4 linked regions of the Homo sapiens genome follow. The protein of the gene in region 1 interacts with the protein of each later gene in a pairwise test. Each region holds a gene or a part of one and is shown in the gene's direction. Other genes may lie near its edges.

Region 1 (3,500 bases):
GCTCAGTGTAAAACTTCCTAGGAGGTGAAGGCAATAAACTCCTCCCTGTTTTGCACCATAGACTGGCCTACAATAACTATTCTGAACAGAATGCACTGCCCAGAAGAAAAGGCAGTGAAGAAGGGAATTAGGGAATTCAGATGACTCTGTTTTTCAGAATTATCTAGATGATTGAGGCAAATAGAGATTTTCTTTTATTGAAATGCTGCCATCATTTTCTGCTCTAAGTGTAGATGTTGCACGAGTGACATCTGTGGTATATCCTTCTTCCAGATAGAAGTATAAATTTATAATTTAGTGGGGAGAGGAATTTTCTTTTAATCACCAAACTACCAGCTGTATAGAAAATTTTTTTGAAATCACCAAACTAGCAGTTGTGTATCTTAGCTCCTAAAGCCACATTCACAAGAATCATAAGCATCTCATTTAGAAAATCTAATGTCCACCGGACCCAACATCATCTTTCCACATGTTGGAGTTTAGAACATGCAGTATTGGACACCAAAAGAACAGAAATAACTTGAAATTATACAATTACCAAATAACCTCCATCTCTTTGATAAAAATGACTTTTTACCCAAAGTGAGATGTGAACAAGTTCTCCTCTTTAACCCAGGCAGATTTTCAGCTTAGCTCAAAGCAAACTATAATTAAATAAAACAATAAAAATTTTAACTCAATGAATATCCTAGGAGTTAATCTGCTGTGGTAATCGATAGTGACATAAAAACAAGATGCATAGAGCTGAAAAAGGCATCTGTCCACCTGAGTGAATTCCTGTAGTAGGCAGCATTTCAAGATTTAGTTTGATTCAAACCTGCTGATAAAACAAATGCTTATATGCAAGAAAAACTAGCAGCAAGATATGAATAAATCTCCCCATTATGTTAAAAACTAATCAGCATGACACATTTATATTTAGGTATTTCTTCTGCAGAGGATTGCCAGAAATTTCTTAATGAGAGTGATAATTTGGTGATCCACCTATGTACCTTTTGATGTCTCATCACAGAGATTAGTGCTTCCTCTGATAATACATTTGCTTGATCCTGCTAATAAGAACTCACCTTTCTTTTTAACGAAATCAATTTGTGTTAATTTACATAGGGAAAAACGTTCCTTGAGAGGGAGGAGAGGGGTGTTTACCACCCACAGGAGCAGTTCCATCCCTGGTTACCCACCAGTATCCCTGCCAGATGTTAGACTGGAATTAGAATGAAAATTTAAAAAAAAACGAAATAATAATCCACTAAATGGCCTTCTAATTAGAGAAATTTGAAGATTTCTATCAAATATAAAAAGTGAGAAATAGAAATCATTCCCTTTAATTTATGACAAATTAAAATTATTGAAGTAAAATGTTTCTAAGTCAGTTTCTGGATAGTTCTTGAATGAGTCAAGAAAAAACTCAAACACTAAATTTCTAAGCTAATTTGTTCATTATTCCTTTCTGTTTATTATTTATTATATGAGTGCAAATTGCAAATGTATTAGAAAAGACAATATAGCCTTCACATTCACAAGTGTGCCTTCTGGCCTTTGAAATCTTTTAACATAAGATCAATATAACATATTTGTTCCCCATAAAAATCTCTTATGTACAGGGAATAAGGTCCTCCATAGCTACACAGAGACACCCATTCTTGCAGTCTGGCATTCTTAACACCTTTAGCTTCAAAGGCAGTCGGTTTCAATTTCAAGCTAAAATTGTGAATATACAATTAAGTGCGCAACTTGGGCCTTCAGACCAAATAATTAATGCTCCTCAAATTAAATAATGAGTGGCTGAAAAGCCTAATGTGTAACAACAGAGTAAGTGACTTCAACGGCTTCCTGAACCTTCATTTTGAGGGTGTTCTCATCTCACCCACCTCTGGGCTAGGTATCCTCTGTTAATTGCTAACAATTTCCTACCAAAATAGTGCAATCAGGACTGCCCATCACAGCAAATTACTCCAATTAATGCCCTTTCCTCTTCTGTGAACCAAAAATATCTCTCTCCTGTCTCTCATCTCTATCCCAGGTATAAATTGACTAATAAATTTTACAGAGTTTTAGTCAAAATTATGAATTTTAATTTCCAGCAACATTATTCCTTTAGTCTTTCTATTCCCCAAAACATTCTTAAATTTTGGTATCAAATGTTCATTTCTGTCCTAGAGATTGTGGTTCCCATGGCTACAGATTTTTGTATAGTGGTAGTATGAGTGGAATAAGATCTGAGACTTTTCCTGGTGATATCCACCATTCTCTTGTGAACTCATTGCAGAATAAACAGCCTCTTTCACTTTCATTGTAAGTAGTTCTTTAGGTTGGCAAAGCAGGCACCAGAATCTGAATTTGAATGAAATCTGTACTTTCTTTTGTTGGCCTATTTTTTGCCAAGACAGCCTGCCTATTGTATATTTAGGAATCAAATATTCATTTTTTCTGTTTGTAAAGCCAGAAATATTTCAGTTAAAAAGAATATAATTTTATATTATTTTAATAATTCTTTTTAAGTAAAGTAGGAAAATTTCTGCCACCTGAGATGTTACTGTTTTTATTTATATGAAAATTCCATTTTTTTCTTTATGACTCTTTTCCCATACCATTATGATATGTTCAGCATTAGTATTTTCCATTTTACCACTAAACAAATAAGCCAGGACTAATAACAATAGCAGTTTGAGAGTTTTTATTTTGGCATTTTGGTTTTAATTAGGAAAGAAAACATGGATGCTATTAAAACTAGTTGTAGTTAAAAATGTTTTGAATGAGGCTACTAACGCTATCTTAGTCATCTCAAAGAGAAAGAGAAGAAGTAAAATTTTAAATACCTTTTTGGCATTTTTAACCAATTCATATGAACAAAAACATATATTCTATTAAAGCAAAATAAAGAATAGTTTAAAACACTAGTCTTCTTGCATGTGAATATTTTCCCCCTAACAGACAAGATAGAATCCATTTCTGGACACTCTAAAAGAAAGTAATGTTAATTGAGAGAGCTGTCTCCAAATGGAACTCAACCTGACCAGAATCCCATCCGCAGGCAAGAGATGGGCTGTGGGGCCGACCATAAGTTTTATTCTGAGACGAGATGCTTTATGGCTGCTGGCTGCATTATGGCATCTAGCAGTCCCCACTGGTTTGTGGGAACAAAACACATGGATTGATATTCAATATGAGTTTGGTAAGTTGGAGAAAAATGGAGACGATACGGAGTAGTCTAAAGGCACAACAAATAAGAAGGTGCCAGAGGTAGGGAAGGGTCTGAGAGGGGTAGTTGCAGAAGCATTTAGCTTTCATAGATGAGGGGAGAGTTTTTTGGTTTTATGAAGATTAGGCAGCCCTCCTGAGGAAAGTATTAAGGATAGAATGAGACACTTGTCTTGGTGGTTTGGTGAAGTCGTGTCGAAGGCAAAAGGATGAACTACACATATTTTGAGCATGATTTAGTAATATTGTTTGCAAGTTGAGAAACAGAAATTCAGCCATTCTCCTGACTGATGGTAGGT
Region 2 (3,500 bases), on another chromosome or scaffold:
TTTTTTGAAACAGCGTCTTGCTGCTCTGTCACCCAGGCTGGAGTGCAGTGGCACAATCTCGGCTCACTGCAATCTCCGCCTCCCTGGCCCAAGCCATCCTCCCACCTCAGCCTCCCTAATAGCTGATACTACAAGTGTGCACTGCCACGCCCAGCTAATTTTTGTATTTTTTGTAGAGACGGGATTTCACCATATTACCCAGGTCTCGAATTCCTGATCCCTTTGATGAGAGATCTGACACATCCCTGTGGTGCTCCCTCTGGGCCAGGCACTGCTCCAAGGGTTTCATATACTTTCATTCATCTGTGCAACAGCCCTGTAGGTAGGCCCTGCAGTCACACCATCTGACAGAGGAGGAAACAGGAGTAGAAGAACTGAGTGGTCCAGGGCTTCAAGGCTCAGAGGGCTCCGGTTGCCCCCAGCCCTCGTTCCGTCCCCTGCTCCACCCAGTGCTGCTTGCCATGTCGGCATCAGGCCTGATCTGAAAGCTTCCGGAGCATCTTACAGACGTCCACCTTGCCACCATTCAGGACTGATAAGTTCTCTTGGATTTGCGTTGGACCTTTTTTTTTTTTTTAAGATGGAGTTTCACTGTTGTTGCCCAGGCTAGAGTACAATGGCATGACCTCCACCTCCTGGGTTCAAGGGATTCTCCTGCCTCAGCCTCCCAAGTAGCTGGGATTACAGGCGCCTGTCACCACGTGGTGCCCAGCTAATTTTTATATTTTTAGTAGAGGCAGGGTTTCACCATGTTGGCCAGGCTGGTCTCGAACTCTTGACCTCAGGTGATCCCGCCTTGGTTTCCCAAAGTGCTGGGATTACAGGCATGAGCCACCACACCCGGCCCAGGATTTCTTTATATATTCTGGATATCATCCCTTATGAAGTATATAGTTTGCAGATATTTGCTCCCATTGTTTGGGTTGTCTTTTCACTTGATATAGTGTCCTTTGATGCACAAACATTTTAAATTTTGATGCAGTGCAATTTATTGTTTCTTTATTGCCTATGTTTTTGTCATCAGGTTTAAGAAACCACCTCATCCATAGTTATGAGGATTTTCACCTATGTTTTCTTCTAAGAGTTCTGTAGTTTTAGCTGTTAAATTTAGGTCTTTGATCCATTTTGAGTTAATTTTTGTATATGTTATTAGGTGAGGGTCCACTTTATTCTTTTGCATGTGGATTTCCAGTTTTCCCAGCACCATTTGTTTAAAAGACTGCTTTTTCTCCACTGAATGGTCTTGGCACTTTTGTCCAAAATCAATTGGCAATATATGTAAGGGTTTATTTCTGAGCTCTCTCTCCTGTTCCATTGGTGTATATGTGCCAGTACCACACTGTTCTGATTATTATAGCTTTGTGATAAGTTTTAAACTCAGGAAGTGGTAGTTATTCACCATTTGCTCCTCTTTTTCAAGTTTGTTTTGTTTCTGGATCCTTTGCAATTTCATATGAATTTTAGGATCGGCTTGTCCAATTCTGCATAAAAGACAGTTTGAATTTTGATATGGATTGCATAGAATGTGTAGATCTGTTTGGGGCACATTGTCATCTTTACAATATTAAGCCTTCTGGCTGGGTGTGGTGGCTGACGCCTGTAATCCCAGTACTTTGGGAGGCTGAGGCGGGCATATCACTTGAGGTCAGGAGTTCAAGACCAGCCTGGCCAACGTGGTGAAACCCCGTCTCTACTAAAAATAAAAAACAAATTAGTCGGAGGTGGTGCACACCTGTAATCCCAGCTACACGAGAGGGTGAGGCAGGAGAATCGCTTGAACCTGGGAGGAGGAGGTTGCAGTGAGCTGAGATCATGCCACTGCACTCCAGCCTGGGTAACAGAGGGAGACTCCATCTTAAACAACAACAATAACAGAAGAAAAAAACAGTATTAAGTCTTCCAATTCATGAATGAAGGATCTGTCCATTTATTTACGTCTTTAATTTCTTTCAACAGTATTTTGTACTGTTCAAGTCTTGCACATTCTTGGTTAAATAAGTATTATTTTTGATGCTTCTCTAAGGAATTGTTTTTCTTTTCCTTTTTTTTTTGAGACAGAGTCTTGCTCTGTCACCCAGGCTGGAGTGCAATGGCACAATCTTGGCTCACTGCAACCTCTGCCTCCCGGGTTCAAGCAATTCTTCTGCTCAGCCTCCCAAGTAGCTGGGATCACAGGTGCCTGCCACCACACCCAGCTAATTTTTTTTTTTGAGATGGAGTCTTGCTCTGTTGCCCAGGCTGGAGTGAAGTGGCCCAATCTTGGCTCACTGCAAGCTCCACCTCCCGGGTTCACACCATTCTTCTGCCTCAGCCTCCTGAGTCGCTGGGAATACAGGTGCCTGCCACCACGCCCAGCTAATTTTTTGTATTTTTAGTAGAGATGGGGTTTCACCATGTAGCCAGGATGGTCTCGAACTCTTGACCTCAGGTGATCTGCCTGCCTCGGCCTCCCAAAGTGCTGGGATTACAGATGTGAGCCACTGTGCCCGGCTGGAGTTGTTTTCCTTAGTTACATTTTCAGGCTGTTTGTTGCTAGTATATAGAAATACAAGCTGGGCACCGTGGCTCACGCCTGTAATCCCAGCACTTTGGGAGGCCAAGGCGGGTGGATCACCTGTGGTCAGGAGTTCGAGACCAGCCTGGCCAACATGGTGAAATCCAGCCTCTATTAAAAATACAAAAATTAGTCTGGCATGGTGGCAGGTGCCTGTAATCCCATCTACTCAGGAGGCTGAGGCAAGAGAATTGCTTGAACCTGGGAGGCGGAGGTTGCAGTGAGCTGAGATCGCGCCATTGCACTCCAGCTTGGGGAACAAGAGTGAGACTTCATCTCAAAAAAAAAAAAAAAGAAATACAGTGGATTTTTTTATGTTAATCCTGTATTGATTGCTGAATTGGTTTATTAGTGCTAATAGGATTTTTTATGCACTATTTAGGATTTTCGATATATACAATCATATATATTCAATATATACAATTAATATATATGTGAATAGAGATAATTGTAGTCTTTGTTTCTAGTTTGCATGGCATTTATTTCTTTTTCTTGCTTAACTGCCTTAGCTAGAACTTCAAGTACAATGTTGAATAAAAGTGACTAGAGCGGGCCGGGGGTGGTGGCTCACACCTGTGTTCCCAGCACTTTGGGAGGTGGAAGTGGGCAGATCACTTGAGATCAGCAGTTTGAGACCAGCCTGGCCAACACGGCGAAACCCCATCTCTACTAAAAATACAAAAATTAGCTGGGTGAGGTGATGTGCACCTGTAGTCCCAGCTACTTGAGAGGGTGAGACATGAGAATTGCTTGAACCTGGGGGGCGGAGGTTGCAGTGAGCCAAGATCATGCCACTCCACTCCAGCCTGGACGACAGAGCAAGAACCCTGTCTTTAAAAAAAAAAAAAAAAAAAGTGGCTAGAACAAACATCTTTATCTTGTTCCTGATCTTAGGTGGAAAACTTTTTTGTTCCTGATATTAGGTGGAAAACTTTTAGTCTTTCAC
Region 3 (3,380 bases), on another chromosome or scaffold:
ACTTGAACCTGGAAGGCAGAGGTTGCAGTGAGCCAAGACTGCGCCACTGCACTCCAACCTGGGCGAAAGAGCGAGACTCAAGTCTCAAAAAAAAAAAAAAAAAAAAAAAAAAAAAAAAAAGAAGAGTGGAGAGTGCACGCTAGAGTCCAATTAGGTGCATTCATCCAGTAAGCCTCCTAGGTAACTGCTCTAGGTGCAGGGAATAATGCAGGCAGCAGGACAGGAATGGGCGCTGTCAGCTCCCCCTAGAGCTCAGTGTACATACACCCTTCCTTTCCTGGGAGGGCCGTTCCAGGCCCCCAGGAGACAGGACACGCTGAGCTGGGTGGGGCTGGGGCCAACGTGGGCAGGCCTGTGAGACTCTGCACTTGGGAGCTGGGGGCTGTGGTCTGCGGCATACCCATGTCTGGAAGCAGCCTCTGTCCCTGCAGGGGCTCTAGACCCCAGCCACGGATGGCTAAGGAGGAGCTAGGCCAGGGCACGCATAGACAACCCCCGACATTCACGGGTGTTCAGCCCTACCCTGGGTGTGGAGGTCGTGGCCCAGCTGCCTGACCCAGAGCTCGGCTCTTCCACTTGCGCTTCCCACCCCCAGCTTCACAAGGTCACCTCCAGGAACTCAGTCTTTTTGTGTGTTGTTTTCTGGAGAAGGAAGGTGATCTCCCCACTCCCGGGGCTGTCTGCCTTCCCTGTAGCTGGCAGGTGCCAGAGGCCCCCGCCTGTGACATCCGGCTTTCCTCCCACCACACTCGCCTGAGAGCCAGCATCTGTCTTCTTGGGCCTGCTCAAGCTCTCCTCCGTGTCAGCCCCTCCTCCATGCCCTTCTCCCTCAGACCCCACCCCCCATCCCTTCACCGCCCACTGGGGCTCATCGCTCAGGCTGTAGGAGGGAAATGGAAGGATGTCCTCCCGGGCTCTGGCTGGCGCTGGGTGTCCGAGTCAGCGGAGCGCCCCCAGCAGTCTCCCCGAGGCAGAGTCATGGGGGTGCTGGCGCCTGGACGCTGTCTCATCCCGGGGAGCCGCTTTCCCACCGGCTCCCTGGGCTCCAGCCGCCCCACGCGAGCCCCCGGCTGGTTCTGGGGCCAGGACCGCCCCTCTCCAAGGCAGACTTCCCTTCATTCCACGACAAAGACGCGCAGCCCCGTTTCCCTGGGGCTCTAGCCCGTGAGATCGCCGGGTGTATCCCGACTCCCGCCGGCACGTGCGCTCCCCCAGGGCAGGGCCTGCCTGTCCCCTTCCGCGGGTCGCCAGCAGCCAGCACAGGCCGCAAACGGCGGTCCGCAGAGCGGACCAACGGAGCCGACCCTCGCAGGCTTGGAGCCGGACGCGGCGGGGCAGAGCCCCCGAGGCTGCAGCTCGCCGGAACCCGCGGGAGGGCAGCCGGGCTGGGCGGAGCGCACAGCGCCACGGACCGACCGCGCAGGCTCTGCCGGCCACTTCCGGTGTCGCGCGGCGGCTCCCGGCAGGAGGCAGAGGGCACACCGCCAGCCCCAGGCCAGGCTGCGAGGGCCGCGGACCCGAGCCGGGAAGGACCTTGGGCGGACGAGCCGCGCGTCCCGCAGCCATGGAGCAGGACGACCCGGTCGAGGCGCTGACGGAGCTGCGCGAGCGGCGGCTGGGCGCGCTGGAGCTGCTGCAGGCGGCGGCCGGCTCGGGCTTGGCAGCCTACGCGGTGTGGGCGCTGCTGCTCCAGCCCGGCTTCCGGCGCGTGCCGCTGCGGCTGCAGGTGCGGGGCGGGGCCAGGCCGGGCAGGGGAGCTCGGCTGCCGCTCAGGGTCTCAAGGTCTGGGCGTGGCCGGGGTGAGCTCCGCCCCGCCGTGTGGTAGTTCGGGCCGGGCTGCGGGCGGGGCGGGAGCGGCCAGTGGACTCTCGCCGCCACCCGGTCCAGGTGCCCTACGTCGGCGCGAGCGCGCGGCAGGTGGAGCACGTGTTGTCGCTGCTGCGAGGACGCCCCGGAAAAACGGTGGATCTGGGCTCTGGCGACGGCAGGATCGTAAGTGCCTGCGTCTGGGTCTTCGCCGCCCCACACCGCCCACCTGCTGGCGGGCGCCCCTGCCCACATCCTGGTTCCCACACTCTCGGTGCCCACAGGTGCTGGCGGCCCACAGGTGCGGCCTCCGCCCGGCCGTGGGCTACGAGCTGAACCCCTGGCTGGTGGCGCTGGCGCGGCTGCACGCCTGGAGGGCCGGCTGTGCCGGCAGCGTCTGCTATCGCCGCAAGGATCTCTGGAAGGTAACCTGGGGATCCCTGGCCACCCGCTGACAGCCCAAGGTGCGGCTGACACCTGCGAGGGCTGGGGGCCGGGACTCGGAAGCTGCGATGACCCGGTGCCCACCAGGCCTCTCCCCGGCCGGGGCGACTTCTCTTCCGGCAGGTGAGCCTGAGGGACTGCCGCAACGTGTCTGTGTTCCTGGCCCCTAGCGTGGTAGGTGCGGGGTTGCCAGCCCCGCTGGGAAGCCCCAGCCACACCCCAGGGTGTTTGCTGCTCTGAGGCCTGGGCCTGCCTGGTGGGTGCTAGGCTTGGGGCTAGGGGGGTGAGCGCGGCTGTTTTCTACCGGCCCCGCCCCCGCCCCCTCTACTCTGCTGTTCTCTCCCTCAGCTCCCGCTGCTGGAGGACAAGCTGCGGACAGAGCTGCCTGCTGGGGCCCGCGTGGTGTCTGGGCGCTTCCCACTCCCCACCTGGCAGCCTGTGACCGCGGTTGGCGAGGGCCTGGACCGAGTATGGGCTTATGATGTTCCTGAGGGTGGGCAGGCTGGGGAGGCCGCCTCCTCGCGGATACCCATCCAGGCTGCCCCCGGACCTAGTTCTGCCCCCATCCCGGGGGGCCTTATTTCTCAGGCCAGCTGAGTATTAGACACGATAAAGACTCTGTGGGTTCTATCCTGACTCATGTTTTATGGGGGGCTGGGTGGGAGGGTTCTGTGCTGGCTGAGGAGCTCTGCTCTGCTCTGCTCCTTGGGAGACGGCCTAGTGGCTGCCGGTCCTTGGATGCTGGGGCTTGGCTGGAGGCACAGCCCCCACTTTCCAGGGGTCCCCTGCACCTGCCAGCTTCCTCAGCCTCAGGATTTCGTGCTTGTACCTGCTCAGAGGAACCATGCTTAAGTGACTTGCCCAGCTGTGGACAGGTCTGCTTTTAGCGCCTGAGGCAGCCATCATCCTTCATTCCAACCAGACCAGGGCCCTGGGGTCACACCCAGCTCCCTCTGCCCACCTGCCCAGGTGCTGGTCCACGTACTCCTGTAGCTCAGAAAGTTGCTCTTCAGCCATCGTGGCCCGGACCAGCAGCTGTGCCCGCTCCCGTTCCAGCTCTGCCTGGCATGGGGATGTAAGCCATGAGCTGGGGCATGGCGTGAGGATGGGCCTGGGCCAGCCCTTGCCTC
Region 4 (3,500 bases), on another chromosome or scaffold:
CCTGCGGCCTTCCGCAGTGTTTGTGTCCCTGGGTACTTGAGATTAGGGAGTGGTGATGACTCTTAACGAGCATGCTGCCTTCAAGCATCTGTTTAACAAAGCACATCTTGCACCACCCTTAATCCATTCAACCCCTGAGTGGACACAGCATATGTTTCAGAGAGCACAGGGTTGGGGGTAAGGTCACAGATCAACAGGATCCCAAGGCAGAAGAATTTTTCTTAGTACAGAACAAAATGAAAAGTCTCCCACGTCTACTTGTTTCTACACAGACACAGCAACCATCCGATTTCTCAATCTTTTCCCCACCTTTCCCCCCTTTCTATTCCACAAAGCCGCCATTGTCATCCTGGCCCGTTCTCAATGAGCTGTTGAGTACACCTCCCAGACGGGGTGGTGGCCGGGCAGAGGGGCTCCTCACTTCCCAGTAGGGGCGGCCGGGCAGAGGTGCCCCTCACCTCCCGGACGGGGCGGCTGGCTGGGCGGGGGGCTGGCCCCCCCACCTCCCTCCCGGACAGGGCGGCTGGCTGGGCAGAGGGGCTCCTCACTTTCCAGTAGGGGCGGCCGGGCAGAGGCGCCCCTCACCTCCCGGACGGGGCGGCTGGCCGGGCGGGGGGCTGACTCCCCCACCTCCCTCCCGGACGGGGCGGCTGGCTGGGTGGGGGGCTGACCCCCCCACCTCCCTCTTGGACGGGGCGGCTGGCCGGGCAGAGGGGCTCCTCACTTACCAGTAGGGGCGGCCGGGCAGAGGCGCCCCTCACCTCCCAGACGGGGCGGCTGGCCGGGTGGGGGGCTGACTCCCCCACCTCCCTCCCGGACGGGGCGGCTGGCCGGGCAGAGGGGCTCCTCACTTACCAGTAGGGGCGGCCGGGCAGAGGCGCCCCTCACCTCCCGGATGGGGCGGCTGGCCGGGCAGGGGGCTGACCCCCCCACCTCCCTCCCGGACGGGGCGGCTGGCTGGGCAGAGGGGCTCCTCACTTCCCAGTAGGGGCGGCCGGGCAGAGGCGCCCCTCACCTCCCGGACGGGGAGGCTGGCCGGGCGGGGGCTGACCCCCCCACCTCCCTCCCGGACGGGGCGGCTGGTCGGGCGGGGGCTGATCCCCCCCACCTCCCTCCCGGACGGGGCGGCTGGCCGGGCGGGGGGCTGATCCCCCCACCTCCCTTCCCGGACGGGGCGGCTGGCCGGGCGGTGGGCTGACCCCCCGACCTCCCTCCCGGACGGGGCGGCTGGCCGGGCGGGGGGCTGACCTCCCCACCTCCCTCCCGGACGGGGCGGCTGGCCGGGCGGGGGGCTGACCCCCCCACCTCCTTCCCGGACAGGGCGGCTGGCCGGGCAGAGGGGCTCCTCACTTCCCAGTAGGGGCGGCCGGGCAGAGGCGCCCCTCACCTCCCGGACGGGGCGGCTGGCCGGGCGGGGGGCTGACCCCCCCACCTCCTTCCCGGACGGGGCGGCTGGCCGGGCAGAGGTGCTCCTCACATCCCAGTAGGGGTGGCCGGGCAGAGGCGCCCCTCACCTCCAGGAGAGGGCGGCTGGCTGGGCGGGGGGCTGACCCCCCCACCTCCCTTCCGGACAGGGCGGCTGGCCGGGCGGGGGGCTGACCCCCACCTCCCTCCTGGATGGGGTGGCTGCCGGGCGGAGACGCTCCTCACTTCCCAGACGGTGTAGCTGCCGGGCGGAGGGGCTCCTCACTTCTCAGACGGGGTGGTTGCCAGGCAGAGGGTCTCCTCACTTCTCAGACGGGGCGGCCGGGCAGAGATGCTCCTCACATCCCAGACGGGGCAGCAGGGCAGAGGCACTCCCCACATCTCAGACGATGGGCGGCCGGGCAGAGACGCTCCTCACTTCCTAGATGGGATGGCGGCCGGGCAGAGACGCTCCTCACTTTCCAGACTGGGCAGCCAGGCAGAGAGGCTCCTCACTTCCCAGACGGGGTGGCAGCCGGGCAGAGGCTGCAATCTCGGCACTTTGGGGGGCCAAGGCAGGCAGCTGGGAGGTGGAGGTTGTATCGAGCCGAGATCACGCCACTGCACTCCAGCCTGGGCACCATTGAGCACTGAGTGAACGTGACTCCGTCTGCCATCCCGGCACCTCGGGAGGCTGAGGCTGGCGGATCACTCGCGGTTAGGAGCTGGAGACCAGCCCGGCCAACACAGCGAAACCCCGTCTCCACCAAAAAAATACGAAAACCAGTCAGGCGTGGCGGCGCGCGCCTGCAATCACAGGCACTCGGCAGGCTGAGGCAGGAGAATCAGGCAGGGAGGTTGCAGTGAGCCGAGATGGCAGCAGTACAGTCCAGCTTCGGCTCGGCATCAGAGGGAGACCGTGGAAAGAGAGGGAGAGGGAGACCGTGGGGAGAGGGAGAGGGAAAGGGAGAGGGAGAGCTTGTCTAAATTTTCAATGGTATCAGTACAATGTTCAGAATTTCCTTTACTATCTTTTTAATGTCAGTAGGATTACAGTGGTGTCCTTATTTTTATTTTTAATATCAATAAATTGTGTTCTCCCTTTCTTGATTACCCTTGCCAGGAGTCTATCAATTTTTTTATTCTTTTAAAAGAACTAACTTAGGACTCTGTTGGTTTTCTCTTTTGTACCTTTGTTTTTTAGGTCATTAATTTTTTAATTAGTTCTTTCCTTCTACTTTATTTGGGCTTAATTCTCCCACCACACACACACACACAGATACACATTTTGAGATGGAAACCTAGGTCATTAATTTTTCAATCTTCTTTTATACATTCATAGCTATTCATTTCTTTTAAGTGAAATTATTCTATTCAATTCACAACTTTAATTGCGTTTCATAAGTTTTGATGTGTTATATTTTCATTATCAATGAACTAAAAATACTTTTTAGGCCAGGCATGGTGGCTCACACCTATAGACCCAACACTGGGAGGTGGAGGCAGGAGGATCACTTGAGCCCAGGAGTTCGAGACCAGCCTAGGCAACATAGTGAGTCCCCATCTCTACAAAAAATTTTTTAAAAAAGCCGAGCATGGTAGCACACACCTGTGGTCACAGCTACTCAGGAGGCTGAGGCAAGAGGATCACTTAAGCCTTGGAGGGTCAGTACTGCAGTGAGCCGTGATCACACCACTGCACTCCAGCCTAGATGACACAGCAAGATACTGTCTCAAAAGAAAATAAATAAAAATTTTAAAATACTGTTTAATTTTGCGTTTTAAAATACTGTTTAAAATACTGTTTAATTGTGATTTCTTTTTTGACCTGTAGGTATTTAGAAGACTAGTGCTTAATTTCAAACATTTTGAGATTTGGTCATTTACCATTTTTTATTTCTAGCTTAATTCCACCGTGGCCAGAAAACATAGTCTACATGATTTCAGTCTTGAAAGTTGCTGAGACTTGCTCTATGGCAAAGCATAAGACCAATTTAACCATTCTGTGTGGACTTGAAAAGATGTCTATGGGAAGTCATAGTGTGCAATAAATAATCCGTATGTGTAAATTAGCTCATTTGTTAATTGTTTTGTTG

Evidence for each region. Proteins that work in one complex are often made in the same cells at the same time.
Region 2: the proteins of CTNNA3 (region 1) and ZGPAT interact in binary tests that used the Homo sapiens proteins (3 or more experiments, as listed by UniProt).
Region 3: the proteins of CTNNA3 (region 1) and ANTKMT interact in binary tests that used the Homo sapiens proteins (3 or more experiments, as listed by UniProt).
Region 4: the proteins of CTNNA3 (region 1) and GINS3 interact in binary tests that used the Homo sapiens proteins (3 or more experiments, as listed by UniProt).

Annotation. Positions count from the first base shown.
Region 1 is NC_000010.11:65,915,196-65,918,695, reverse strand, and holds part of CTNNA3 (catenin alpha-3), read left to right. Parts: 3' UTR 1-3,500. UniProt on the Homo sapiens protein: May be involved in formation of stretch-resistant cell-cell adhesion complexes.
Region 2 is NC_000020.11:63,711,039-63,714,538, forward strand, and holds part of ZGPAT (zinc finger CCCH-type with G patch domain-containing protein), read left to right. Parts: intron 1-3,500. UniProt on the Homo sapiens protein: Transcription repressor that specifically binds the 5'-GGAG[GA]A[GA]A-3' consensus sequence. Represses transcription by recruiting the chromatin multiprotein complex NuRD to target promoters.
Region 3 is NC_000016.10:719,711-723,090, forward strand, and holds ANTKMT (adenine nucleotide translocase lysine N-methyltransferase), read left to right. Parts: upstream 1-1,435; 5' UTR 1,436-1,564; coding exon 1,565-1,726; intron 1,727-1,887; coding exon 1,888-1,992; intron 1,993-2,090; coding exon 2,091-2,231; intron 2,232-2,373; coding exon 2,374-2,424; intron 2,425-2,598; coding exon 2,599-2,847; 3' UTR 2,848-2,880; downstream 2,881-3,380. Other genes in the region: CCDC78 (coiled-coil domain-containing protein 78), read right to left, coding at 2,968-3,079, 3,212-3,380.
Region 4 is NC_000016.10:58,395,471-58,398,970, forward strand, and holds part of GINS3 (DNA replication complex GINS protein PSF3), read left to right. Parts: intron 1-3,500. UniProt on the Homo sapiens protein: Required for correct functioning of the GINS complex, a complex that plays an essential role in the initiation of DNA replication, and progression of DNA replication forks.